Homo sapiens: one gene and its partners. The protein of the gene in region 3 purifies or fractionates together with the protein of the main gene of each other region. This does not show direct contact. Each region holds a gene or a part of one and is shown on either strand. Other genes may lie near its edges. The genes, in order: PACSIN2, ACTC1, COBL and PACSIN3.

The links.
Region 1: the proteins of COBL (region 3) and PACSIN2 purify together in Homo sapiens (affinity purification with mass spectrometry; 4 studies listed by BioGRID and IntAct, with this or other methods). This does not show direct contact.
Region 2: the proteins of COBL (region 3) and ACTC1 purify together in Homo sapiens (affinity purification with mass spectrometry; 2 studies listed by BioGRID and IntAct, with this or other methods). This does not show direct contact.
Region 4: the proteins of COBL (region 3) and PACSIN3 purify together in Homo sapiens (affinity purification with mass spectrometry; 4 studies listed by BioGRID and IntAct, with this or other methods). This does not show direct contact.

Annotation. Positions count from the first base shown.
Region 1 is NC_000022.11:42,868,473-42,873,162, forward strand, and holds the end of PACSIN2 (protein kinase C and casein kinase substrate in neurons protein 2), read right to left. Parts: exon of another isoform or gene 4,020-4,690; intron 3,988-4,019; exon of another isoform or gene 3,513-3,987; intron 3,032-3,512; exon of another isoform or gene 2,998-3,031; coding exon 2,885-2,997; 3' UTR 1,301-2,884; downstream 1-1,300.
Region 2 is NC_000015.10:34,791,993-34,800,646, reverse strand, and holds the start of ACTC1 (actin, alpha cardiac muscle 1), read left to right. Parts: upstream 1-5,097; 5' UTR 5,098-5,141; exon of another isoform or gene 5,142-5,504; intron 5,505-5,738; exon of another isoform or gene 5,739-5,816; 5' UTR 5,817-5,838; coding exon 5,839-5,967; intron 5,968-6,529; exon of another isoform or gene 6,530-6,805; intron 6,806-7,077; coding exon 7,078-7,402; intron 7,403-8,077; coding exon 8,078-8,239; intron 8,240-8,365; coding exon 8,366-8,557; intron 8,558-8,654. UniProt on the Homo sapiens protein: Actins are highly conserved proteins that are involved in various types of cell motility and are ubiquitously expressed in all eukaryotic cells.
Region 3 is NC_000007.14:51,014,550-51,020,460, forward strand, and holds the end of COBL (protein cordon-bleu), read right to left. Parts: intron 3,020-5,911; coding exon 3,002-3,019; 3' UTR 1,663-3,001; downstream 1-1,662.
Region 4 is NC_000011.10:47,182,941-47,192,747, forward strand, and holds the start of PACSIN3 (protein kinase C and casein kinase substrate in neurons protein 3), read right to left. Parts: upstream 3,495-9,807; 5' UTR 3,409-3,494; intron 2,908-3,408; exon of another isoform or gene 2,702-2,907; intron 2,436-2,701; exon of another isoform or gene 2,326-2,435; intron 1,795-2,325; exon of another isoform or gene 1,605-1,794; intron 1,558-1,604; exon of another isoform or gene 1,361-1,557; intron 130-1,360; 5' UTR 64-129; intron 1-63.

The DNA of each region.
Region 1 (4,690 bases), on a different chromosome or scaffold from region 3:
TCAAGCAATCCTCCTGCCTCAGTCTCCCAAGTAGTTGGGACTAGATGCATGCACCACCACACTCGACCAATTTTTAAACTTTTTGTAGAGACAAGGTCTCACTATGTTGCCCAGGCCACCTTTTCTTCTTGCTCTAACTCTCCAACTGGAAAAGTATCACTTCTACTTGGGGAAACTGAGGCCTAGAGACAAGCTGAAGTTTCCAAGCTGGCCCCTGAGGGCAGGGCAGGAGAGGGAAGATGGGCAGTTAGAGGCCCTGCCAGATCTCTCACGGGGGGGGCCGTGTGATCCAGCCTCAGAGTGGAGGTTGCTTCATCCAGCTCAGCGGGGACCGTGGTCTTGCCATGGTGTTTGGGCAGTGACTGAGGCCACTGGCACCAGGAGCCTGCTTCTGACCCCCCACCTTCCCTCCCAACCCCGTTCTGCCTGTTTCTCTGCAGCCTGGGGCTGTGGGCCGAGCCGGGTGTCCGCCCTGCGCTGTAGGGCTCCAACTCCTCAGAAGCTGGGAGCAGGGGACCCGCCACCCCTCAGACAAGGAGGCTGCGTGACAAGGATCTGTCCCATACCCTTGCTGAGCTGGGACAAAGCCACACTGCAGGGGCAGCTGCCTGCCTTGCTCCTCCCAGGTGCTCTGTGAGGCCCCATGCCCAGCTGGCGTGCTTTTCTGGGCAGCCTTCCCAGGGCTCGGTGAGCGTGGCCACAGCCGCCCTCACGTCTTGCTTCTCTCCTGTCTTCAAGCCAGTCCAAGCCTCCTCCCTCCTCAGTTTCTCCAGCGAGGGAGGGGGTGGTTCCTCAGGGATTTCGCTCAGTGCTTTGGGCTGGCTGAGACTCCTCAAGAAACCCTGGCTGGCTCTTGGAGCCTCTGTTTCCTCCTCGGTAGAATGGAAATGGGGAGACTTGCCCATACCCTGTGGAGATGTTTGGAGACGCAGATAATGTAAGTAAAAAGTGGAGAGCACACAGTAGGTGCTCAGGAAAATGTGCTCATAGGAGAGTTATGGGTGATGTCAGTCTTGTCCTGCTGTTTGGGCTGGGGCAATAGAGAGGCGCCAGCCGATGCCCGCACCATGTGGAAGCCCAGGTCAAACAGCAGCAGGTCTCGGGGAGAAGGGAACCCCAAGGGGCTCAGGTGCCTCAAATCCCCAACCTCCAGTTTGGCAGGGGCAGTGGGCCGTGGCCTTTTGGGCAGGGGTCCTGTGCCCTGGATCTTGCCCAGCTCCAAAGCTAGTAAGCCCCAGGGAGGCCACCCCCGCCAAGTGAAGTGGGCATGAAGACAGATGATGGCGAAGGGACTTCCATATGCACGAGATCAACTGTTTATTGATTTTTTTCCTCAAATACTACACATGTAAAGGAACTGTTAAACTGAAAAAGACTTGACAATTTTTGGTAAATCCGTAGCACAGAAATGAGGATTTCTGCTGGTAAGTTCTCAGGACAGACACAGACACAGGTCCACTTTCCAAGCAAGACATCTGCTCACTGGAAACGGAGTGAATGCATAGCTGGTGACGGCGGCGGGCACTGCTGAGTCACGTGAAACACAGGTTCCCCCACGTTCCCCCCACCCCCGCCGGCCCGCGTGGCCCCCGCGTAACTCTGGCTGCAGCACCTGCTCCCGGGCGACTCCGGGCAGCCCGAGACACTCGTGCTGCGGGTAAGACCCAGCTTCTGTTTGTGCACAAGTAACACGACGACTGAAATCTGCAACTACTGCAAAGACGCGGGCACTTTTACAGTGTTCTGCTACGGAGCCAGGACAAAGGCCGGTCAGAAGCCGGACCAGCAGTCAGCTGGTGACGACGAGCCTCCCTCCAGCAGGCACCACGTCAGAGAGGCCCCAGGCCCACTGAGCCCGGGAGGAGACCCAGCCGGCCAGCCAGACGTGTGCCTGAATGCCACAGACTTCAAGCAGTTTACAAACGAAACTCACTGTTAAAAGCTGTTAAATCTCATTAAAACAGTAGACGAGTGCTTTAGATTCTCTGAATATCAAATAATATATACAGATAGACACTGAGACATGACAGTCTAATCTAAAGCATCTTTACAGATGCATTTGCTTGAAAAGTTAGTCTTCTTTTTAACTCTGAATCAGTGATAAAATTGTTAATTTGCAAAAGAGTACAGTTTTAAGCAAGAATAGAGTGAAAATAATTTTTAAATATGGCGATTTGGGGGAGTTCTACCTAAGGTTCTATGTAAAGCTTCCATTCAGATGCCCAAAAGCACAAAGAGCATTCCCAATAGAAACCCGACCATAACCCGGTCCCACCTTCCTGGCATAATTCCTTTCCTCAAACATCTGCCACCTGAGGCTAAGCCTACACACGGCGTGGCTGAGTAACAGGGTAAGGGAATAGGGAGATCGTTTCCTCAAGACTGGTGCGCATCAATCTGTGCCATAATTTAAGTAGAAATGAACAGGTGTATAAAAAAGTATAACTGTACACAGCCTTTAAATTAAAAACCTCAAAATCTTCACTCAAAATGGGATGTAAGCTTGTTCATTTAAGTTGCAGGTGATGGACTCGTCAGAGAGAGTAATCAGTGGAACAAGATCAGTGTAACCCACCATTGACTCGGAAAGGAGAGACAAAGTCAAGAACATAGAGATCTATGATAGGCCAACAGGCACAGTGGGCGGGGAGGGGCGGCTATTTCTGTTGTTCTGCGTCTTCCTGCGCTCAGATCCCTCCAGCTGCACTCGGAAAGGTGCCGAGTCCCAGGCGAAATGACCAGCTCATCTGCCTTCCAGGAACACCATGAAGCCAAGAGCAATGGAACCATCATCTCTTGCAGGAAAAGGAGTGGATGCCCACGTGGCTGGCTGAGGCTCCTGGGCCCGCCGCCTCCGTCCCCCCGCTGGCCTGTCCCCGACTCATCACTGGATCGCCTCCACATAATTTGCCGGGTATAGGCCAACTTGCCCGTTGTCCAAGCGTCCCTTGCACCAGCCCTGCTCATCCTCGTCCTCCATCTTGGTCAGCTCATCCCCTGCAAGACAAAGAGGGAGCCGTCTCCATGAGAGGTATGACACCGACGGTGGGCTACAGAGCCGCATTCACGAGCTTTGAGCCCACAGAGGGTGGAGGGCCAGGCATTCTGTGGCGGGCAGGCCGAGGGCCTGGTCATTTCTCTACTAAATGCATGCATTTTAAGTTGCCTCTTTGGTCATGGGCCTCTGACAGACCTAGAGATGACAGTCTCACACAGTAATTTGGAACAAGCTGCTCTCAGCTGCCACAGTGGCTCCCACTGAGACTGCGGCATCCAGCTCCATAGGGCTGTGCCTTCCTCACCACCCTGGCCAGGTGGCAGGAATCGTCCCTCGGTTGTGCCCCTCCCTCACGTTGGGCCTCTTCTGTCCCCTCCCCAGGGCCCCGGCCGCCTTGCTCCCAGCAGCTGTCTCTGGGGTCTCTCTGCCTTTGCTAATCCCTCTCCTCTGCAACTTCCAGGCTGCGAGGGGAAGGGACCATGTCTGACAGTCATACCTGTCATTTTATCCCCAGCACCTGGCTGATGACTTGTGCACGGTGCCATGTGTCAACCCTTCCTGAGACCCTGAGAAGGAGCCCCTGGCGCTGTTCTGGAATCTCCCTGTGGCTCTAATGTATTAACGTGGTTCCATTTATCTTTGGTTGTTCCAACCTGAAGGACCTCCTACTTCTGGCCAGGCCTTGGGTAGAAGAGGAGATACAGAGATGAGAGGAACTGATGGATCCTGGTCTCAAGGAGGCAGACTAGGGTGGTGAGGGGGAGGTGGCACTAGGGTAGGGCCCCAGGTCTGGCATTTGCCAGGTTAGGGAAGCAGAGCAGCTCAGAGCCCAGGGGTGGGCAGGGGCCTGTGTGCTTCTGGTTGGTAACTCACTGCAGGGAAGGCCAGTTGGGCCTGCTGGCTCGGACCTCGTCAGGAGCAAGCAATTGGTGGGAAAGAAATAGTCCCAGTGCTGTTTTGCCTTTATTGCTAAGTTTGAAGTTTTGTAACTCTCTTTGGCATTTTTTGGTCCATTTTTCAGAATTAGATGCAGTTTTCCCCCTGGTTTAGCATTTCCCTGATGCTTTGGATTTTGTATGGCAGCAATGCTGGTCAACATGCCTGCGGAGCTAATACCTGGGGCTTCCAGTGCTCCCCGGACTGCCTGGGCTCAAATCCCACAGCCATCACTCACTGGCTGGGAGACCTGGACCAACTGCGTCCACTCCCTGGGCCTGTGGCCCTCATCTGTGGACTGGGGGTACTGTGAAGATTAAGTGTTAAGACACTAAAGAACCCTGGGAGGGTGGGACATGCGTAAGCACTGGCTCAGCCTCCCACTGTCGTGCCGCTTCTGCCAGACCAGTGCGCCTGCAGATCTAACCCAGAGGCATCAGGAGCAGATGCAGGGGCCACAGGGCAGCAGCCACGATGAACCACCATCTCTTTCCACCGCTTCGTGCCTCGGGCCCCTGGCGTTTCTTTTGTCCTGCCTTCATTGGTTGCTGTGCTCTCACAGGCCTGGATCCAGGCTACCGAGGCTAGGATGAGGCCTGTAACCCCACACTACCATGTGGCAAACAGCCAGAACACCGCAAGAGACGTAAGTCAAGCCACACTGGCTGGGAGCTAATTTTGCATTGTTAAAAAGCAGGATAACACAGAAAATAGAACGGACAGGAAAGCTTTCACATTGTGCAAATGTGAACTGGT
Region 2 (8,654 bases), on a different chromosome or scaffold from region 3:
GGCGTGAGCATTTCATTCTTGACAGACAAACTCCTTTTAAGGAATTTAAAAGGCTATCTAGAAATCCTTTCTGATTCTTTCCCGCTGACGTCACCAGGATAGAGGAGACTGAAAATGTGGTCTTTAGTCTGAGTGCGGTGGCTCACGCCTTTAATCTCAACACTTTGGGAGGCCGAGGCGGGCAGATCACTTGAGGCCAGGAGCTCGAGACCAGCCTGGCCAACATGGTGAAACCCTGTCTCTACTAAAAATACAAAAATTAGCCAGGAATGGTGATGTGTGCCTGTATTCCCAGCTACTCAAGAGGCTGAGGCAGGAGAATAACTTGAAACTTGCAGTGAGCTGAGATTGCCCCACTGCACTCCAGCCTGGGGGACAGAGCAACGCTCTGTCTCAAAAAAAAAAAAAAAAAAAAATGTAGTCACCAGGATCCAGAGAAGCATCTTCCTTCTATGTTCCCTTCTATGTTCTCCCTCCTCCGTGCCCCTTCCTCCTTCCCCTGCCCTCCTTTTCTGAGTCTTATTAAATGGTTCATTACAGTTGGTCCTATCATGTTAGAAGACAGTGACGGCTGGGACCTGCCAAGAACAGAATCCATCTGGGGCCAAATACCCTCTGCCTGGGTTAATCCCCTTGGTGGTTGCATATAAAACACGGGGAAGTATGCTGTGAAGATTAGCCATGCCTCATATATTGGACTCTGAACACCAGGATGTGTGGGGGCCTGCAGCCCTCACCATCATGTCACTTTCTCCTTTCAATGAAAACTGAAACCCAGATCCAGCCAGAGGGCAGTGGGGGTGAACAAATGTGTAGGCAAAGAAAATAGGAATGTTTAGGAAGGCTAGATCCTCCCCCCGGTCTGATCTAAACCGAGGCTCTCCCTCCCCCGGCACACAGAATGCAGGAGGGACAGGAGGTGATGGGGAGGGCTCATGGGGAGGAATTAAGTGTGGCTCTGTCTGTTTCTGGCTTCTCTGTAAATACTGTGACACCTCCGAACGGAGGAACAGCTGAGATAAGTGACTGCTAATCCCCCAGTGCCGGGGAGGAGGCTGGGCCGCTCCCTTCCAGATCCCAGCAGATGGTGGATGAAACAGACTTCCCCCGAGGCAAGGGCAGTGGGAACTGTCCCACCTTCTGTTCCTTCAGTTTGCCCTGCACGTCTCCCTCATGGCCAGTCCACGCCGAAAAGGGCTTCACTGGCCCTCAAGAGCCCTGGGGACCCGCCCCAGCTCTGCCATCCCACTGGGATCTACAAGGTCAGCCAACCTGGACTCCAGCCAGCACTGGCAGCTTGGGCAGCATCCAGCAAAGCTCTGTGGGCTTCAGAGAGAACAGCCAAGCAGTGCGGCTAAGTTTTTCACTCTGCAGAGAAACATACCTAGGGGAGAACAGTGAGGGCTCATTTAAAATGCAGATTCAATCTTCCAGGGTGGAACCCAGGAATCTGAATTTCTATGAGGCAGTCTAGGTAATTTGGCTGGAGGCGGTTCTAGCATCACATTCTGAGAAATAGCAGACCAAGTATATGTGAAGGTATTTTTGGTGGTGGTTGGGAATAGGGCTTAAAATCAGGTGCCTGAGTTTGAATTGTCACTCCACCATTTGCTCACCTGTGTGACCTCAGACAAAAAAGGCTCAGTGGTTCCCTACCTCATAGGATATAAACTGGTCTTTCTCAAACTGCAGGAAGCACAATTTAGTCACAATTAGCAATAAAAAAAATAACACTCGGAGACTGCACAACAATGTGAATGCACTGAACACTTTTGAACTCTGTATTCCTAAATGGTTAAGATAGTAAATTTGATATATGCATATTTTACCATAATTAAAAAAAAATCTAGAATGTACCAAAGAGGAGATGTCATTTTTTTCTTCTTTGTTTTGTAATTTTTTTTGAGATGTCATTTTTATATGCTTAAAAAGCCAATCTCAATTTTCAAATTAAGTGGATCTGTAAAAAGTAGTTTAAATAAAACTCAGTCATGAAATCTTACTTTCCTGTTGGTTTACATTTTAAAATATATAAAATAGGGTTCAAAGTTTTTAAAATGTGGAAATCAAGGCCAGGCTTGGTGGCTCATGCCTGTAATCCCAGCACTTTGGGAAGCTGAGGCTGGCAGATCAGTTGAGCCCAGGAGCTTGAGACCAGCTTAGGCAACATAGTGAAACCCCGTCTCTTCAAAAAATACAAAAATTAGCGGGGTGTGTTGGCATGTGCCTGCAGTCCCAGCTGTTTGGGAGGCTGAGATGGGAGGATCAGCTAAGGTGGGAGAATCGGCTAAGGTGGGAGGATCACCTGAGCCTGGGAGGTTGAGGCTGCAGTGAGCCCTGATTATACCACCGCACCTGATTATACCTGGGTAACAGAGGGAGACCCTGTCTGAAGCAAACAAACAAATACATAAAAATAAAATAAATAAAATGTGGAAATTGAGTGGTAATACAAATAGTAAATATCAAACAATCATAAATTTTTAAGAAATAAGCATTCGTTCTTGCTACACACATAACACATATGAAAATACACTGTTTTGAGTGTTAGGCAATGAAATTGAGCGGAATAGGAAACACATTTTTCAAACATTTTAAGGGTGAATATTGTTTCACAAAACTGCTGTTGTGTCCTGCACTGTTCTACTGGCCTCCCACTAGAGCCAATGGTCCTGAGATGAGGGGGCTGGAAGTGGCCTCCTAGATCCCCGAAGCCTGTGCGAAGGACAAAGGTCAATAATCATGGTTTTCCATTCCTGAGAGTCTTTGCACCTATAGCAGTCATAGTGGGAGTCTCTCACCAGCCACTCCCATGCAGAAACTCTTTCTCTCACACAAATGTTCATAAACTTCAGTTCTGCTCTACTTTTAAAAACGAACAACACATCCTGGGGAAGGCTTTCTCGGCAACTCTTTCAGACCTCCATTCCCTTTTTGTGACTATCCTGCTGATACCTCTTCTTCCCTCCCAGTTTGTGCCATAGCTGTCTGACTTTTCTGTAATTGCCACGGAGGATGAGTCCTGCTCTGTTTTATTTATCACTGAATCCTTAACTAGCACAGTTCTTGTCCTGCAAAGATTTGCTGAATCAATGAAGAATGAAATCAACCTGATTCTTTAAAAGGCAGAGCTACTACTGCCTCCAAAAGTATCATTATTACACATACAATTTGCTTTGTATCTTCCATATTACTTACAGCATTTGTTTCTAACTATTACAATACACAATAACTTCTGCAACAAGTGTTATGGTATCACTTTTGAGAGGGAAAACTTGGGGCTTGGGAAGGTTAAGTGTCTTGCTCAAGACCAAACAGATAGTTAGTAAGTGATAAAGGCAGCATTTGAGCCCAGTTCTGTCTGGCTCTGACACCAGTCCCATTTCTCCTTTTCCTTGGTTTTTCTATATTTTCACGAGACAAGGCAGTTCTACTCTTGGCATCCTGTCAATAAACATTTTCACTGTAAAATGCCTGCTGTGCTGCACAGAGTAATCTCAGCCAGGTCTCTTACCCGACCCCACCACACAGCTGCCCATCGCGTTTCTTCTCCAGACCAACCCAAACATGGTTGGGGAGTTCAGAGGGGAGGGCCCAGCATTCCCCAGTCGGGACAAGTATCTAATCAGCAGGCCTCCTCAGCATATCAGCCCAAGACCACTCTAGAGAGAGATGCCAGTGCCCAGTTTTCTATTTTTAACTGGTGTGAACTGGAGGAAAAACACAAGCATTAAAAATCAAAGCTCCAGTCAAGAACTGAGAATGCAGGGCACCCCAGGGCAAACTAGTGATCTGTGTCCTTCTTACATCTCCCTCTTCCTTCTCCCTCTCCTCATTTCATGTCATTTTTCTTTTTCCTTCTCAAAAGTTCAAGATCCTGCAAAATCTGTTTTCCACAGAGGAGATGATATCTGTCATTTATGCCAATGCTTCTCACACTTTAATGTACATACCAAGCAAATGAGGATCTTGCTGAAAAGCGGATTGGGATGGCTCTTGAGATTGCATTTCTAGCTCATTTCCAGGTTATGACAATACTGCTTGTCCATGGGCTGCACTTTGAGTAGCAAGGATTGGTGTAGTCCTATAGTTTAAGTTGTTGCTATGTTCTCCATCAAAGTATTTGCCTTTGCAGTCTTGTCTCCACCTGGAGTGAGGGCCTCTGCCCCCAGTTTAAAGATGCTCATCTCCCCACCATCAAGTGGGCAAGCTACTTTTGGCATTTGTTCCTTTATTCACTTTGGCAGCAGGGGATCCTTTTCTGGCCTGAAGACCAGAGTCTGAATTTGAGCAAAACCCTGCAGCATGGATGAGGGCTACCCAATAACTGGGCTGGGGTAAACCTGGTCCCTTCTCCAGCAAGACTTGGCCAAGCTCTCACAGAAACCCTTTTCTGACTCTTCCCTGGCCAGACCCTGATCCATGCATGGGTTGGAACTCGGGTGGCCTTGGTTAATCTCAGCTTTCTGACCTAGATGAGCCCAGCACCAGCTCTCTGAGTAAAGCCATTCAGGCTGGCGGGGACTAGACCAGAAGGGTGCCCTGTCCTGGGTGCCCCTTTTGCAGCCACTCAGATGTGCTGCTGCGGTGTCCTTTGTGCTGGTGGCAGCCCTGGAAGATGAGAAGCCGCTGTTGCTCCCCTGCTGCCCTGGCCCAGCTGTCAGGACCCCTCAGCAGAGGGCAGGGCGCCAAGCCTTCCCACTGCATGTGGCTTATTGTCCCCAAGGCTGGCAGGGCTGCGGAGGACCGAATCCACAGACCATCCAGGGAGCACCCACACCCCAGAAAGGGGGAGGGGTGGGCTGGCGTCACTTAGTCTTCCCCTGCCCCCTACCCTTCAGCGCCTGCCCCTCCCCAGCTCCCTATTTGGCCATCCCCCTGACTGCCCCCTCCCCTTCCTTACATGGTCTGGGGGCTCCCTGGCTGATCCTCTCCCCTGCCCTTGGCTCCATGAATGGCCTCGGCAGTCCTAGCGGGTGCGAAGGGGACCAAATAAGGCAAGGTGGCAGACCGGGCCCCCCACCCCTGCCCCCGGCTGCTCCAACTGACCCTGTCCATCAGCGTTCTATAAAGCGGCCCTCCTGGAGCCAGCCACCCAGAGCCCGCTGCCGCCGGAGCCGAGCCGACCCGCCCCGCCGACGGTGAGTCAGCGCCCGGCCCTCCGCGTTCACTCCTCGCCTGGTCCGCGGGCCGCGCCGGACGCCAGCCCCGCGCCGCCACCTGGCCAGCCCGGCCCGCATTCAGCCAAGGCCCCAGCTCCTGCCGCTCTGCGACTGCCTTTTTTTTTTTTTTTTTAAAGCCCACACTTTTTGATTTGGTTCTAACTTGTTTTGTCCTGGGCGTTGGTCCTCGCAGGACCTCGCAGGGGCTCTAAGAAGGGGAATTTTGTGGCTCCCCAAGGGGCTTTTGGGTCCCTACTCTCGTGCGCTTTCCCCTCCATCTGGGGCACAGGCATGGCGATATGGACAGGGCTGGAGATCGAGTTCCCAGTTCGTGAAAAGGAAGAAAGTTAAAGGGCTGGGGAGGACTAAGGGGCTGGGTTTCTTGGGTCCCTCCTTGCACCTGGCACCCTAGCTGGAACTCCTGGCCAGGGAGCCTGGGTGGATTCCTCTGCCCTTCTCTGTCCCCAGTCTCCTCCGCGGCTTCTTCCCTCCCTTTTATGATTCGAGGGGAAGGGAGGTGGCAGGAGTGTTCCCCGCCCAACCCCCTGTCCAGTCCCCACAACCCCCTTCTGCTCTGTCCTGTCCTCTGGGTGCGGAGAAGGCCAGCTGCACAGGCAGCTAAGCGTGGTCCGCCCTCCCCTCCTCAACCTGCAGAACCCCCTGAAGCTGTGCCAAGATGTGTGACGACGAGGAGACCACCGCCCTGGTGTGCGACAACGGCTCTGGGCTGGTGAAGGCCGGCTTTGCGGGCGATGACGCGCCCCGCGCTGTCTTCCCGTCCATCGTGGGCCGCCCGCGGCACCAGGTAAACTTCCCGCCGAGCCCCCCGTCCCACTCGGGACCCCTTCAGTCCAGCGATCTAGGAAATGGCTCTCACCTGACCCTCTTGTTCGATGAACTCTTTAGGCCAAATTAAGAGAAGGCTGATTGACTTCAAATCCAAGCCAAGGCAAGCAATACTCCACAAAACCCCAACATACTGAGGAATGTACACCTGAGTGGCACGCCTCTAAAAGGGTCCCACTCCCTGGTGTGAAAGCCACCTGCTTCTCTCCACTAATGGCCTTTTGGACTTTTAGTCTTTAGTGTCTTCTCTGCCTTATACACTTCATTTTCTTCCTTGTCCTCTCTTTTCAGTCCTGTTTAAAACTTCTAACAATATCACCTCTCCCAACCAACCAGGACCAAATCCACATTCCTCTCTCATGTTCACAGCCAGTTTACAGGGTTCCCCAAAGGTGTAATCAATCTATCTCCTTCCTGGCTGTTGCATTTTTAGAAGCCAGGCGTGACAGAGGCAGCAAGTGCCATGGTGATAGTGACATACCACCTCGTTTGTTAAAAGACATGCCATGCTCTCTGGGTTTGTCACATGCCTGGCCAGACAGGCTGCCAAGCAGGAGAGCTTAGTCCTCAGAGCTGGTGAATGACTCCAGAACAGCTCTGGACAGGCTGAATTTCACTGTTGGAGTGAGGATGGCATATCAGCCCATCATTATGTGTTCACTTGAATGTCAAAATCTTTTTCTTAGGAGAAATACAATGTGTCATTAATTCAGTCATTCCAAAATGCAGTCATCTATATTCCAGTTGACATGGGTGATGAGCTTAATAACTTAATGAAGGCATATGATATTTTTAAGGTGAGGTGAGGCTCTGCTTCTTCAGTGGAATAGCTTCATTCTCTCCTGAGTTATATTCTCAACAATAGAATTATACATCTTTGGGGGAGTGGGGAGAAGGTAGAAGATTGATTTTTAAATAATTCTTCTAAATTGGGGTAAAATCGTATTGCTTGTTATTTCTGGTATTTAAATATGTTCCTTGACTTGGGCAGTTAGATATAAATGGACAAGACACTGATTATATTCCTGACATGGTGAGAGCATGATTTTCTCATTTTTTCTTCTCATAGGGAGTTATGGTGGGTATGGGTCAGAAGGACTCCTACGTAGGTGATGAAGCCCAGAGCAAGAGAGGCATCCTGACCCTGAAGTATCCCATCGAGCATGGTATCATCACCAACTGGGACGACATGGAGAAGATCTGGCACCACACCTTCTACAATGAGCTCCGTGTGGCTCCCGAGGAGCACCCCACCCTGCTCACAGAGGCCCCGCTGAACCCCAAGGCCAACCGGGAGAAGATGACTCAGATCATGTTTGAGACCTTCAATGTCCCTGCCATGTACGTGGCCATCCAGGCAGTGCTATCCCTGTATGCTTCTGGCCGTACCACAGGTATGCTGGGCTCTGGGGACAGTTACTGATGAATCACATTCCCAAGTCACCGACCTTGCTGTGAATCAGATCCCCCAGTTGAAAAAGGGATAATCCCTTTCCTCCCATTCCCTAGCAAGGTCTGTGCTAAGAGAAAGAGTTAACAGTAGTGCCCTGAGGTTAGTTTCGGAGCACAATTATTGTTGGAGCTGATAGCTTGTGGAGATAGGTCCTTCCCTCATTTAAAGCTCAGCGCAGTGTAGCAGCTTGGAGTGCAGCAGTCATTGTTATGTGTTTAAACCATCACATCACCTGGGCAAGCATCCCCAAGGAGAATACATTCCATACAGGGTCTGAGTCAAAAGAGAGAGAAACGTGTAAGTTCAATAGGAGCAAAGAAAAACACCCTTGGGTGCTTACATAATGTGCTCGTGGCTGACAAGAAAGATGGTCATTTGAAAGTGTCCTCGGGAATTTTTTCTACTATAATAGTTAAAAAGATGAGCTGCAGTTTGCTTCAGATTTAGTATTCCTGATGCGCATTTTTATTCTTTGTGTGTAAGGAATCTAATTTTATCTGGATCAATGCCCATTGCTAGCATCTCTTAGCCAAGATTGGAAGCGGGCTTTGCCGTGGCTAGAGCAGTGGTGTTGTCCTCAGGAATTTACCTTGTTCTTGTCTACTTCCCCGGGCAGGCATTGTTCTGGACTCTGGGGATGGTGTAACTCACAATGTCCCCATCTATGAGGGCTACGCTTTGCCCCATGCCATCATGCGTCTGGATCTGGCTGGTCGGGACCTCACTGACTACCTCATGAAGATCCTCACTGAGCGTGGCTACTCCTTTGTCACCACTGGTGAGTGTGTGTGTCTCATCTGCCACAGTGTGGGTCTGCTTTCCTCCTCTCTCACTGAATCCGCCTACCTCCCTATAATTGACTTCTTGCTTCAGAGCATGACTGTGATACTCTTTATTTCTGTAGCTGAACGTGAAATTGTCCGTGACATTAAAGAGAAGCTGTGCTATGTCGCCCTGGATTTTGAGAATGAGATGGCCACAGCTGCCTCTTCCTCCTCCCTGGAGAAGAGCTATGAACTGCCTGATGGCCAAGTCATCACTATTGGCAATGAGCGCTTCCGCTGTCCTGAGACACTCTTCCAGCCCTCCTTCATTGGTGAGTTGTAGGGTCTGGTGCAGAGGCACGATTTTCCCTGGAAATCTTAGGGTCTCCCAGAGTAAAATCTAGAAGGCTCAAGAAGCCCTTGAGTTAA
Region 3 (5,911 bases):
GCCTGGAAGGACCCACGTGTGCTCCCTTCTGGGTGTAATGTGTAATATAGAGGCAGGGAGAAAATGTGAAGTCCGGACCAGGCCAGATTCCCCCTGCTGCTTCCCCTCGGATATTCACCCTTTCATTGAACATTTACTGAATACCTCACCTGAGCCAGACAATAAAAATACCATAGGATTTATGACCTAAACTGGGACATTTTGGGAAGGAGAGAATGCCAGTAATAATATGCTGGGATAACCAACATGACCAGGCCTTTTCCTGGGAACTTGGCCTGGAAAGTTCAGAGCTGCATGCTGCCCCGGCTCCTGGCTATAATCAGAAAGGCAGGTGTGAGCCCCAGATGGGAAGATAACGTGGGGGTCAGGCAGAGGGAACAGAGGCAGACGTGGGCGCAGAGGGAGCAGCAAGGAGGGCTTGACCTTGACTGTGACGGAGACACACAGAGGACTGCGTCTCGAGGACAGGGTTGGCACTTCTGGTCTATGCGAGTGGGCAGGGGTGGTGCTGACATCTCTGGCATGTTAATGCGACGGGGGCACAGAGGAGCTCCCGGGTGCATTCAGGAACTTGGTGGTGGCTTGATGTTGATACGGGACATGGGGGCGGGGGCCGGGGACGTGGGATGCGGGTAGTGTCTGTGTGTGTAGGCAGTGTGGATCTAGGCACTAAGAGTCCTGTAGGTGAGTGGTTTAGACTTAACTCTGTAGGCAATCCAGAGTCACAGAAGCATGTTTCAACACTAAGAACATCACTGAGGTACTTAATCGTCTGGACCTTCAGTGTGCTCATCTGGAAGATGTTGCCTTCATACCACCTGGGCTCACTGAGAAGATGAACCAAGAATAATCATGAAACACTCTGCAAAAAGACCAAAGTAAGGCCAGAGGCTGTCATTATTCCATATTCCACACTTCAAAACCCAGGCTTCTGCGCAGCTTGCAGCTTGAGATACAGAAGGCAAGACAATTTCAAAAGTAGATTTAGCCTAAAGTGGGTCCCCTCCCCTCACAAGGAAAATGAACTAGGGAGGTGGGCAACCTCTCGTCCTTCCCGAGGCCCACCTCTGGGCCCCTTCTGTCTGCTGCCCCCTTGGTCTGGCCAGGGAGCAGGGCTGCTCTGAGAAGGGGAACACCATGCAGTATGTGAAGACCAGGGGCACAGGCCAGCAACATTGTATCTGCTCGACCTCCCATTCCTGACAATGGCCTCCTTGTGCCCCTAACACCCAGGCAGCGTCCTGCCCCCAGGGCCTTTGCACTCACTCTTCTCGCTGCCAGTCATGCGTCCATCCGGAGTTTGCTCCCTCACTTCCTTCAGGGTTTTACTCAACGGTCACCTTCTCACTGGGCCTTTCTTCATCCCCGTCTCCTTTGTCCCACTTTCCCGATGGTTTTTCTTCTTTACACTTATCAGCGCCTAAATGTACTCAACATTTTGCTAACTTATATCACATCTATGGTCTGTCTCCTCCATAGTAACATAACATGAATTTCACAAGTGTGGGGATTTTTGCCTGTTTGTCAGCTGCATGTAACCCAGGGAATGGAGGAGTGCAGGAGGGAGCCAGAAACGTGTGTTGGTTGAATAACTGAATCCGTCCTTCCCATTTTGGAAGAGGGGTATCCAAACCAACTGTAGTATGAAATTCACACAACAGCTAAGATTTGATTTTCTTTTATTTGTGGCACTAAAAGACAGATAGCTGTGATGAAGAGCAATTGGCTGGTAGCTCGTGCCTCACCAAGAGTTTAGCAACGTTAATCAGTGAATGCAGAACAGCTTCCATTCTACCTGAGGCCTAGATCTGAGATCGCTGTGAAACATTAAAGTGACCTCACCATACTTGTTTTCTCACTCAGATACACATTTTATTTCATCAACACATCTTGATTTCTATTACTTTTTTCAATATAACAAAATGTTTTAGAGATATATATGAAAAACTACTGCTGTAGTTAGACCTCATTATAAATATTGGTGACTGGGCACCATGTGAGAAGACCACGATATCATACAAAGGGAGCCAATGAGCTGTTGGACAAACGCGTCAAGGCTGAACCAAAATTGTGATGCTCTCAGCGCAACTTTGATCTGAACTCTTGACAGGTGGGCATCCAACATCCCTGCTCCTTGACCCTCTGCAGGATTCCAGAAGGCTCCCAGTGAAGTCATCAGGCTCCGTACACAGGCACCGTGGGGGAGGCCTATGTCACTTCATAGCCTGGGGAATGGCTGTCCATGTGGGGCACTGCCCATCCACTCCAGTGGTGGTGTGACCTCAGCCACCCGCCACCCTTGCAGGACTCGGGCATGCCCTGGCCACATGATCACGTAGGACTGTTTTCTGGGTGGTAATAGTTGATTTTTAAAAGCTTAGTTGGTCAGATCATGGACTGTGACCCTCTGTGAAGTGTTAGCCCCAAATATTTGAGGAAGAAGAATCCAGCAGTTTTACTACCTAACAAAGCCACCTTTGAAAAGCCTCCCAATTTTTTTTTCTTACTACCAAAACACACAGCATCATGGAGCATATCACATTCAGATTGTTCCATCTGATTCATATGTTTTTTCTAAAATTCAAAAGATCTTAAATCAGTAAGTAGTTTCATCCATCTGTATGTGGTAAAAGTCTCAAAGGTCCAAAATCAGTCTAAGGCATGATTCTTTTTACTTTGCCCATAAATATAATTAAGTGTGAGTGCTGGGCTCCAGCATTTATAGTCCCATTAACCTGCCAACAAGAATCGTTTATTAGCAACTTAAGATATTCAGAGGCAAAACACATTTCCTTGGCACACGAGCTGCGCAGCGACACAGCATCTTCTCCTTTCCTTTCAAGCCGTTATACAGGAACACACCGAAAATCAACTGTGCGCATTTGGCCTGTAGACAAGAAAGTAACACCAAAACTTGATGTTCCTGGCTATGCAGACTCCTTGAGTGACGCCTGTGGGCATATTACAGGTGGGTTTCTGCAATTCTCTGGCCTCTGTTCATTCACACGAGCAAGGGCACCTGCAGGGAAGAGAGATTCACAGTTATTTGGTATGTCAATAAGCCCAGGATGCAGATCTTCTGGTGCTAGAGAGCTCTGTGCACAGCCACTCTTGCAATAGTACTCCTGGAACCCCCTTCCCAGTTCCTTTGACCTGCAGAAAGGAGGCTGTGATCAGGGCTGTCCTCACAGACCTTCTCACGCTCCAGCTTCCTCGTAAAAGCTGCCAGGGAAGGACGACTAGCAGGATGCAGAGGCCCGAGGTCAAGGGAACTGGGAGGTGGGCCCTGGGGTCCTGGTCCAGACAGAGGACACTGCCTCTTGGGCTGTGTGGGTACGCATCTGAGGCCTTGCCCTCTGCTCAGGTGTGCCTGAGAGGATCGTGACTAACATTTGATGTGGGACGAGTTACCCTCTATAACTTCAGTTTCTTCATCTTTATATTGGAGACATACCCATAATAATGACAATAATAAACTGCTTGTTTGGTTAAGCTGATGTTTTAATGAGTGGACTTGTGTCACACTTTAAATGGTGTCTGGCACATGGTAAGCACACAGGAAGTATTCTAGGTACTTTCCATGTGGTGATGGTGGTTAATTGTGGTGGTGGTGGCAGTGGTAACGGTGGTTATGGTAATCGTGGTGGTGGTGATGGCGGTGGTTGTGGCAGTGGTGATGGTGGTGGTAACTGTGGTGGTGACGATGGTGGTGGTGGTGGTGATGGTGATGGTGATGGTGATGGTGGTGGTGATGCAGACCCTGCCCTGTGCATGCTCTCTCACACATCCCTCGCATCAATCTTACAGATGAGGAAGTGAAGCCCCAAGGCCCAGAAGAACTGGGAGGATCGACACCACCCGGGTCTGTCTTGACACTGGGCGCACCTGCCCTTTTCCTGATGCTCCTCCATATCCCTCTCTTCTCTAGGTTCTCTCGGGCCCTCTTCCTGAACTCCCATGGTGGGGATTTAACATCTACTTCAAGCCTGTCCAACTCATGGCCTGGGACCACTTTAAATGTATCCCAATACAAATTCGTCAACTTTCTTAAAACATTATGAGGGTGGGCATAGTGGCTCACACCTGAAATCCCAGCACTTTGGGAGGCCAAGGCGGGCAGATCACCTGAGGTCGGGAGTTCGAAACCAGCCTGACCAACATGGAGAAATCCCGTCTCTACTAAAAATAAAAAATTAGCTGGGCATGATGGCACATGCCTGTAATGCCAGCTACTCAGAAGGCTGAGGCAAGAGAATAGCTTGAACCCGGGAGGTAGAGGTTGCATGAGCTGAGATCGCACCATTGCACTCCAGCCTGGGCAACAAGAGAGAAACTCCATCTCAAAAAAAAAAAAAAATATATATATATATATATATATATATATATATATATATATATATATATGATTTTTTTTGCAATTTTTTTTAAGCTCACCAGCTATCGTTAGTGTTTTTTATATGTGGTACAACACAATTTGTCTTCCAGTGTGGCCTAGGGAAGGCAAAAGATCAGACACCTCTGATCTACTTGTACAAACACAGTGCTCCACTTAGCCAGATGTTTCCTGAGGGCCCCACTTATTAATAGGGGGAGTGTTACAGTCTGAATGCTTGTGTGCTCCCAAATTCACATGCTGAAATCCCAACCTCCAAGATGGTGGTATTAGGAGGTGGGACTCTGGAATTTGATGAGGTCATGGGGGTTGAACCTCATGAAGGGATTGGTGGCCTTATCAAGGAGGCACCAGGGAGCGTGTCTACCCTTCCATCACATGACACGATGGGCAAGACTCATGGAACTTGTGATGTGGAAGGGAAGGCAAGCATCCAACAAAAACCACACCAACTGCTAGAGAAATTAGAGCTGTGGTTTGCATTATGAAGGAAAAATTATGTGACGCTGTATTGGGAACCTAATCTAGACTGAGGGAGGCTTTCTGAAGACGTGAGGTTAATAAAGGAACAAAGGGATGAGTCAGGAATGAGCTGGTCAAATGTGGGGAACAGCTCTGGAGGAGTGGAGAACAGCATTTGCTGGCCCTGAGGATGGTCACTGTGGTAGGTGTGCTTCTCCCAGGAGGCTCCTCCCCGTTCTACCTGCAGAAGAGGCAGCTGACTCAGTAGAGCTGCAATAAGCAGAACAGTCACACGCAAAGAGTCTGCAAAGACAGAACTGACCCCTAGGCCTCAGAACAATTTCACATTAACCAAAGCACACCACAGGTTTACATTACGAGCAACTAAACCAGGGGTGATGCAATTGTATTGTGGGTCACATTCACATCCTGATAGAAATTGCTATTCCCTCGTCACAGCAACTTGGAGTTCTCTAATGCACATATGAGGACCTAGGGCTTAGATGAAAAGAGAGTTGGTGTGTTTTTTCTCTTTCCTGGTTTGGGGCCTCCTGTTACTGTCACATGTCTAATCATTTCTTACAAGGTCTGTGGTCAAGGCCAAGTGTCATGACGCGTGTGGCCCGCATCAATTAATTCCTGCCGTGGGAAAACAGGCACCTGAGGGCCCAGACAAGAGACTGGAACTCAGTTCAATAGGACGTTTCCCAAAGCGGCTAGGAGCTGATAAGGTGTCTGGGCCCAGCAGCAGCAGGACACACGGAAGGGCTGGGAGAAGTCACTTATGATGTCTGTGCCCCATTTTCGCACCTGTCAAAGGGGAGCTACGACCTTGACTTCCAGGAAGGTGTCGGGGTAGATGCTTGCCCCGCTGCCCTCCTGGGAGGAAAGATCCACAAGTCATCGGGATTAGCCTGTCCCAGCTTCTTTGGAAAAGTTCCTAAGGTCAATAGCAGACCCCGCACCCCTGCCCCCTTCCTCTGGCTGAGAGGTCCTGAGGGCACAGATGAAGCTTCTTTCGTCTATCACAAGCAGCTCCGACAGTGCCCGGACCCT
Region 4 (9,807 bases), on a different chromosome or scaffold from region 3:
GGATGGAGTCTCAAAGCTCTTCCTCTCACTGCTCTGCACTTCCCCCCCCGCCCCCCCACATACCTGGGGCCTAGAGATCACTTCAAGGACCCGGGTGTCCAACTCTCAATGCTGCCACCGTGACTCTGCCTTGAAGGAGAACAGAGCGGGGGTGAGGGTGGGGGCCTAGAGCGTCCAGGGCGGTGCCCGGCACCCCCAATATAGCAACTGCTGTCAGAAGCGCCGGATTCCAGGGAGGAGAATGCCAGGCAGGTCACACGATCCAGCCAGGGATTAAATGGCAGGCGGGGGTGGGCGGTGGGCAGAAGGCCCCACTCCCCCAACTGCCGATGAGAGGACTCCTGCCCAGGCTAGGGCCTCTGTTGCCTTCCCTTGAGTGACAAGACAACCCTGTTACCCGAGAGGCCAAGTCAGAGGGTGCCTGGCCACATCCCAGTAGCTCCCTGTACTGAGGAGGGCACGAAGGGAACCAAGAGGCCTGGCTTCTGTGTTGGCCAGGAAGCCCGAACAAGTGTATGTAACTGTCTCCTCCTAAGGAGGCCCCAGCTCCCTCTAAGATGGAACTCCTCTGTGTGCTCAGCTGCCATGCCAGGGCTGGTGTGAAACTCAAACCAAGCAACGCACCAGAAATACGAGGGGCCCTGCAGTCACGGAAGATACTCATCTCACTCCACACATCCACTGAGGGCCCGCAAGGCTCCGTGGGGAACACACAACCCGGGCCTGCCCTCCAAAGGCCTGGCGTCCAGGGCAGCATGGGGAAGTGAGAAGCGATGGCCAACTATAAGAATGTCTCCCAGGCTGGGTGTGGTGGCTCACGCCTGTAATCTCAGCACTTTGGGAGACTGAGGTGGGTGGATCACCTGAGGTCAGGAGTTCCAGACCAGCTTGGCCAACATGGAGGAACCTCGTCTCTACTAAAAATATAAAAATTAGCCAGGCGTGGTGGCGGGAACCTGTAGTCCCAGCTACTTAGGAGGCTGAGGCATGAGAATCACTTGAACCTAGGAGGCGGAGGAGGTTGCGGTGAGCAGAGATTATACCACCGCCTGGGCAACAGAGTGAGACTGTCTCAAAAAAAAAAAAAAAAGTTCCCTAGAATCGCAGAGGACGGCAAGCCAATTCCAACCCCAGAGCCATGGCCCCAGGGACTCAAGGACACAGTGGCATGTGGCTGCTCCCCTCCTGCCTCTGGGCAGGGTCTCAGCTGTCCCCAGCACTGACTGACTCACAGACCCTAGAAGGAAATCGCTTCCTCTCTGAGCAGGCCCAAGGGACACAGCCAGACCCAGGAGGACAGTGTGCGCCCTTTGTCCCCAAAGCAGGGCGCTGTCACAGCGCTTCCTCCAAACTCATGCACCTCTGCTTCTCCTTCAAACCTCCAATTAAGGCATCTTCTCCTCAGTCACTTCCCCTGTTTCTCTGTCCTTGCTCCTGTAGCCCCGGGTGACCCTTCAGCCGGGGTGTATAACCCATGGAGTTGTGGCTGACAGGACAGTGTCTATCTTCAGTCACCGACAGAGGCTTCCAGGATTCTGATTTGTGTGTCCCCACGCGCTGGAATCAGCAATAATTAGTTAAGTGAGAAAAGAAGCGATGTCCACCTGGAGCGCAGGAAACGCGCCCGCTCCAGCAGCTGTGGGAATGCTTGGTCCAAGTGGGCTTCCCCCTCTGCTAACAGGAGACAGAGCTAGGGGCTCCGCGGAGACCCAGGCAATGGAGGTGCCCACCAGGGGCCTCACAAGCTCGTCACTTGGTTCCCTCTGCAGTGTGTCCTGTCTGCCCAGAAAGGACCTGACAGGGCGATGGAGAGAAAGAGAGCTGCTGCCATGAATCACAGGGCTCTGGAGCCGCCCCAGTCCAGCCTCAGGAGCCTGGGGCCCCTTGCCTGTTCCAGCCTCCGAGTTCCCTGCTCCCCAGAGAGCTGCCCCCCACCCCTTCCCTCTCTCTGGCCCCAGAACAGAGCAAGCTGTGTGTACCGGGCTGGCACAGCTCCCTCCGGCCTCCCAGAGCAAACACAGGCCCAAGCCCCGGGTGCAGCCAGGCCCCACAGCCCCAGCCTGACCTCTCAGCAAGCAAGCAAGGAGGGCTTGCACCTTGGCCCCCATTGAGCAGGTTGGCACCCTGTGCCTCCTGAGCTCAGCAGAGACCCAAATCAGTCCCCACCGCAGGCAAGAGCTCAGAAAGCAGGTAATGCAATCTTCCCAGCCCCGGGAGCCAGCACGTTCGGCTCCGAGAGGTCTTCCTGGGCTTGGCAGGGTCTCCTTGCAGCTGCACGGGCCAAGGTAGGAAGTCCCTGGTTCAGGGAAGACCCAGTCTCCCTACCTGAGGCCTGAAGGTACCCGGCCCCAGACCAGCCCCAACCTCTTCCAGAAGCTGGGGGCTTGCCCCTGGGAGGGAGCTCAGCCATTCTGCCTGGCCCATCCCTGGAACCTGAGTCACAGGCTGCGCCCAAGGGCTTCTTTCCCGGGCAGCCCCTCCCGGTGCGCCCGCAGCTCTAGGATTTGAGGACAGAGCGGGGGGGAGGGGAGGGGGCGTCAGTAGGCTGGTCCGAAGAGGGACAGCGAGGTTAGAGGGGCTGGAACCAGAAGCCAGAGCCAGCCAGGAGATCAGGAGGCTGGGGGAGGGGGTGGCGCAGCCAAAGCGGGAGGAGGCAGGGCCAGGGAGGGGCATAACAAAGGGGCACTTTTGGAAACCCGACCTGCCGGCCGGGGTGCCTGCTTCCAGATGACGCACTCCGAACCCCAGCCTCCACTCCAGAGCTCGGCGCCCAGAGGCTACGCGCCTCTGGCCTCAACCCTTATGGACCGCGCCCCTCGACAGGACCCCTTGCCGCCCGGAGCTGCATAACTCGGAGCCCGTGGAGCCACGCGGAGCGGCAGGGCCAGGCCTAGCCACCGAAGCTCTAGACTTCTTGGCCAAACTTGTTGAACTTGGTCTTGGCGGGGGTGGGGCCACTGATCACCGCCAAGGGGAGGGGACGCCCCCTGCCTGGGCCGGCCTTGCCGTGGGCTCCAGATGGTGGCCCCGGGCAGCGGACCCAGGAATCGGGGCTCGCTGCATAGGGCGAGGGATCGCCAGGGAGCGAGGACCCTCTGGGGCCTCGGGGCGGGCGCGAGGCGAGCGGACGGGGGCCCTCGAGGGGCCCCTGAAGACGGCTCAGCCCTCCAGCGCCGGCGCCGCCTCCCCCGGGCGGCCTGCGGAATTGCGAAGCCCGCGGCACCGCAGATGGGACGGCCCCTCGGCGCGGCTACGGCCCTTCCCGTCGGCACGCAGAGCGGGGTGGCCGGGGGCTCCCTGGGCGGGAGTCGGCTCCATTGCAAACTTCAGAAGCCGGAGCAGGAGAGGGCGGGCTCGAGCCACCGCACCCGCCGCCGCCTACCCGCGCGTCCCCTCCAGGGCACTCACCGCGTCCTCCCTGGGCCCCTCGGCGGGTGGGGGTCCGGCCACGCTCCGGCCCGAGTCCTGCCGCTCCTGGGCCCGCGCCGCGGCCTCCCGGAGCGCGCCGGGCCCTCCCCCGGGAAGCCCGGCCCCCGGCCCCCGGCCCCGCCCCTCTCCTGGCCGCCGCTGCCTCAACCCCACGCGGCGGGGCAGCGGGGCTGCAGGCATCGCGGCGACCAGCGGCTCTTGTGGCGCGGGTCGAGGTTTCTCTGCTTCGCCCGTGTGCGGAGTGCCTGGGCGGGCTCCCCAGGGTTGCGCCCCGGTGCCGCAGGGAGCCAGATTTCGGCTTTGCCTCTCCCGGACCGTTGCAGAGCCTGGGAGACCCGAGGGAGCAAGAAGGGACCGGGCCGGCACGGGCAGCCTTGGAGAGGGGCCGGGGGAATTACACTGCCTTACATTTTTAGCTGCACAGCTTGTTTAGAAATTGGCTCAGGCGAGGCTCACAACCACCCCTTGTAAGCATTAGGATTCCCACTGTACAGATGCAAAAACTGAGGCTCGGGGGCTTTTCAGAGGCTTGCCCAAGATTTCCCTCTAGTCAGGCAGGGCTGGGACTCCAAAACCGTGCCCTACCGTTCCACAGCTGCCCTGCTAATCTGGGGCGCCTTCTAAGGCCTGAGACGAACACGCGGTGGGGGTGGGACAAAAAGGCCTAAGCTCCTCCCGCTCCGAGTTCTTATTTCCAGATTTTGTACCACGATTCATTCTTACCCTTCGCCCCTCCACCCCCTTTATCAGTCTGGTACATTTTTCCATATCGCCACGATGCCACCCCACGCTAAATAAATCCCTTCTCCCTCCTCTCTCCCTACTTCCCTCTCCCCGCTTTCCCCCGGGGGTGAGATTTTGCAGAGCGGCTCCGTCTGTTATTTATATCCACTGGAGCGGTCCAAGAATGTTCCGAAGCTGACCTAATCGCCACCTGCTCGGCCTCTCCGCCCCTCCCACTCTCTCCTGGGCCCGGTGACCCAGCGGCGGTGCCCTGAGCCTTGAAGACCAGGGGGAGCGCGGACCAACGGGGTCGAACGCCCGGGCGCAGAAGGTCCCGGACGCAGAAGGTCCCGGGCGCGCAGAATCGCAGCGGGTCGGAGAGCCCCGGCGCTCTCAGAGGAGTGCGCCCCCAGGGACGCGGCTCTGAGCCCTGGGAAGCTGAGGCGCCTGGCTGCGCCCTCTGAAGCTCGTACTTTTCCTCCCACCCTCAGCTCCCTGAAGAGTGTGAGTGCGTGCGCGCGGAGTTTTAAACGGCAGCTTTAAAAATAGCAAAATTATGTTGTTTCTAAATCCAGGAGGAATCACTGACGCGTTCTTTACGCAGATGAATCCGCTCACAAAACGGGAAAGGGACCTGGAGAAAATGAATGGGGGTAATTTTGCCTGCCGAGGGCTCACTTGCTGGGCAGTGCTAATGGAAGGGTAAAACTGCCTCCCCAAGACACCTGTGGGGCACCCAAGGCGCGCCACCTTTGGCCTGAGGATTCTGGCCGTGTTTGGCAAATCATAGCTGAGTAGTGAATCTGAAACCTGGGATGTGGTTTCTGAGACCAATTTCAACACCCACTCTCTCTTAGGGCTTGGACAAGTCCCTTATCTCTATTTCTACCTCTATAAAACATGACAGGTGACCAGCTGACCTTCCGCTGAGCCATGAGCCCCAGCTAATTAATGATTGTAAAAAACAACTGCAGATCAGAGGAGCTGGGAAAATGGCAAATCACAGCCACAGGGTTTTGTATTCTTTAAAATCAGTTAACATCCCTCCTAGCGCCTGAAGGCCTTTAGGCACCTAGACCGAAGTGTGAAAACACAAGAATGAAATTAATTACAGGAGCCACCTATTAAAACCTCATTAAAAATAAAGTTGGCAGCCAGGCTGTGGGATCTGGGAAAGCCAGGCCATAGAGAGACTCAGAAAACAGGGCTGTTCATCAGACCACAAAGAGAAGGGGATGTGGACTGGAAAACATCTGGCTTCCCTTGGGCTCAAGTCTGGGAGCAGAAAGCAGAAATGTTGCAGCTGATCTTAATTGCCCCTGAGGTACTGTAGGGGAAAAAAAACAACAAAATAAAACCCAGAGCATAGGGGGCTGCTTCTAAGCTGAAAGTAGACAGACATGCCTTTGGAAAGCCAGCTCCAAGCTAATGCTACCCCCAGGGCTCCCATTCTGCGCTCTATGGCCAGAGCCCTTAACATCCACACTGCTCCATCAGTGCTGTCCTCAACCCAGAGTTCAAGATGAGATGTCAGTGGACAGAGGGCTGCATAAAGACAGAAATCTGGTCGGGCGCGGTGGCCCACGCCTGTAATCCCAGCATTTTGGGAGGCCGAGGCGGGTGGATCATCTGAGGTCAGGAGTTTGAGACCAGCCTGGCCAACATGGTGAAACCCCATCTCTACTAAAAATACAAAAATTAGCTGGGCATGGTGGCGGGTGCCTGTAATCCCAGCTACTTAGGAGGCTGAGGCAGGAGAATCGCTTGAACCTGGGAGGTGGAGGTTGCAGTGAGCTGAGATCGTGCCATTGCACTCCAGCCTGGGCGACAAGAACAAAACTCCATCTCAAAAAGAAAAAGAAAAAAAATGACAGAAATCTAAGGCTGGGCACAGTGGCTCACGCCTGTAATGCCAGCACTTTGTGAGGCTGAGGCAGGTGGATCACCTGAGGTCAGGAGTTCAAGACCAGCCTGGCCAATAATGAAACCCCATCTCTACTAAAAACACAAAAAAACTAGCAGGCGTGGTCGTGGACGCCTGTAGTCCCAGCTACTTGGGAGGCTGAGACAGGAGAATTGCTTGAACCCGGGAGGCTTAGGTAGCTGAGATTGCGCCACTGCTCTCCAGCCTGGTCGAAGGAAACTTTCTCTCAAAAAGAAAAAAAGACAAATCTAGCAAGGCATTTGGCTCAGGGTACCAATGGGCAGATTGGTCCATAGCCAGATTTCACGCCACTCACAGACTCACCTTGAGTTTCTGGAATATCCTAACCACTGTGCCTTCATTTGTTTATTTATGCATTCATTCACCCAGCCAAGAAAACACTTGAGTTTTTACTCCATGCTAAGGCTATGCTAGGAATGTTGGGAGTACAAAGTTAAATAAGGCAGAGTCCAAGTGTACCGTAATGATGCAAGGCAGATAGGAAGTATTGAGAGAAAACAGGCAGAAGGGACGGCCTTTCACAGGACATGACACTGATAGGTCTTGATGAGTAGGAATTAGTCACGTGGACAGGCATTCTAGGCAGGAGCTTCAGGGTGTGCCAAGCCCCAGGGGTGTTACCATATGACTTTGTGACCTAGCAATTCTACTTTTTGGTATTTACCCTGGACGAACATGTACAAATGCAGAAAGAGGTACAATGATGTTTGCATATAGTACTGTTTGCAACAGGGGAGAACTGAAAACAAATGTTCATCATGAAGGCAATAGTTGAACAACCTAAAGTTCATTCATGCTGTGGATTACTCTGCAAAAACTCAAGAACAAGCTAGAGGCAGGAGTTCGAGACCAGCCTGGCCAACAAAGTGAAACCCCTTCTCTACTAAAAATACAAAAATTAGCCAGGTGTGGTGGCGTGTGCCTTTAGTCCCAGCTACTTGGGAAGCTGAGACAGGAGAATCGCTTGAACCCAGGAGGCGGAGGTTGCAGTGAGCTGAGATTGCGCCATTGCACTCCAGCCTGGGAAGCGAGAGCAAAACTCCATCTCAAACAAAAACAAACCAAAAAAAAAAAAAAAAAAAAAAAAAGAACAAGGTAGAGAGAGACATATTCTTTTTTTTTTTTTTTCGAGACGGCGTCTTGCTCTGTCGCCCAGGCTGGAGTGTAATGGCGCAATCTCAGCTCACTGCAACCTCCACCTCCCGGGTTCAAGCGATTCTCCTGCCTCAGCCTCCTGAGTAGCTGGGATTACAGGCACGTGCCACCACGCCTGGCTAATTTTTGTATTTTTAGTAGAGACGGGGTTTCACCATGTTGGTCAGGCTGGGCTCAAACTCCTGACCTCATGATCCACCCGCCTTGGCCTCCCAAACTGCTGGGATTACAGACATGAGCCACCGCACCCAGCCAAGAGATGTATTCTTATAAGAAGACCTCCAAGACGATGTCAAGGGAAAAAAGCAAAATGCAAAACACACTAAATCTTCACAGAAAATATACTTCATACTGATTTTGGCGTTTATCTTTAGGCAGAGGTCTAGAATTGGTAAGGGACATTTTTGTAATGTTAGAAAATTTACAATGAGAATGTACCTATGTGTAAATTATGTAACTAAAATTAAAAACTGGGGGGTGGGCGAGTGGGTATTTGTATCTAAAATAGTGCTGTCCAATTATTTTCTGCAGTGGTGGGAATGTTCTATAGCTGTGCTGGCCAATATGATAGCCACTAGTAGCATGAGACTGTTGAGCACTTGAAATGTGGCTATTGAAAACATAAACTTGCCGGGTGCAGTGGCTCACGCCTGTAATCCCAGCACTTCGGGAGGCCGAGGTTGGGTGGATCACCTGAGGCTGGGAGTTCAAGACCAGCCTGACCAACATGGAGAAACCCCATCTCTACTATACAAAATTAGCCGGGCATGGTGGCTCATGCCTGTAATCCCAGCTACTCAGGAGGCTGAGGCAGGAGAATTGCTTGAACCTGGGAGGCGGAGGTTGTAGTGAGCTGGGATTGCTCCATTGCACTCCAGCCTGGGCAACAAGAGCGAAACTCCGTCTCAAAAAAAAAAGAGAAAACATAAACTTTTAATTAAAAAAAAATTTTTTTAACAACTGGTAATCAATTTATTAAAATTGTTGACTTAAGCATCCTGCAATGGTGACTTCCACCTCAACTCCTGGCTCAATACTGATGGAAGTAATCTGCTTAACAATCTCAGAAGGACTGTGCAAGTCAATGAGTCGCTGGTGGATTCTCATCTGGAAACGATCCCATGTCTTAGAACCTTCACCACAAGGGGTTTTTCTTGTAGTGATTCTCAAAGTCTTGGTAAGCATTCGGACTGGTCCTTTCACTTTGAGATTCTTTTCCTTTGCGCCTCTGATCAAGTCAGCACACACCTTTTCCAGGGATTTTATGTTGCGGCTTGTTAGGGTGATTCGAATTCAGTGAATCGCCACCTCCGGCTCCACGGGTGTTTTTCCGGTATCCTTAAAAGCCATGGCTGCTGCGTGGCTTCCTGACCGACTTTTTCCTCAGCGAGAGTGAACAGCAGTGAGTCAGGAGCAGGAGAGTGCGGACGAGAGACTCACAGCACCTACGACCGCGTCTTCCTCCAATTTAAAAATTTTGAAATTAGGCCAGGCGTGGTGGCTCATGCCTGTAATCCCAGCACTTTGGGAGGCCGAGGCAGGAGGACCACTTTAGGCCAGGAGTTCGAGACCAGCCTGGCCAAGATGGTGAAACCACGTCTCTACTAAAAATACAAAAATTAGTCTGGCATGGTGGTATGCACCTATAGTCCCAGCTACTCAGGGCAGGGCTGAGGCAGGCGAATTGCTTGAACTCAGGAGGCAGAGGTTATAGTGAGCCAAGATTGTACCACTGCAGTCCAGCCTGGATGACAGAGCGAGACTCTATGTCAAAAAAAAAAAAGAAAAATTAGCTGAGTGTCGTGGCACATACCTGTAGTGCCAGCTACTGAGGAGGCTGAGGTCACCGGAGCCTGAGAGGTCAAGGCTGCAGTGAGCAGTGATTGGGCCACTGCACTCCAGCCTGGGCAACAGAGTGGGATCCTGTCACAAAAAAAAAAAAAAAAAAAAAAAAAAAAAATTAACAACTACATGTGAGTAGTGGCTACTGTATTGGACTGTGCAGGTCTCGAATCTCTAGAATAATGAGGTCATGATGGGGTGGAGGTATCAGAGGCATTTGAACCAGAGAGACTCCAGCTTGAATAGGGGCTGGGTAAAATAAGGCTCAGACCTACTGGGCTGCATTCCAAGGAGGTTAGGCATGCTGAGTCCAGCTGATAAAAGGATGCGATAAAGAAGCTGGCCAAAACCTACCAAAACCAATATGGCAATGTGACCTCTGGTCATCCTCACTACTCATTATACGCTAAATCTAATACATTAGCATGCTAAAAGACACTCCTACCAGTGCCAGGACAGTTTACGGATGCCATGGCAATGTCAGAAATTTACTCTATGTAGTCTAAAAAAGGGAGAAACCCACAGTTCCGGGAATTGCCCACCCCTTGACCAGAAAGCTCCTGAATAATCCACCCCTTGTTTAGCATATAATCAAAAAATAACTTAAGTATTCTTAGGGCCGGGCGCAGTGGCTCACGCCTGTAATCCCAGCACTTTGGGAGGCCAAGGCGGGTGGATCACGAGGTCAGGAGATCAAGACCATCCTGGCTAAC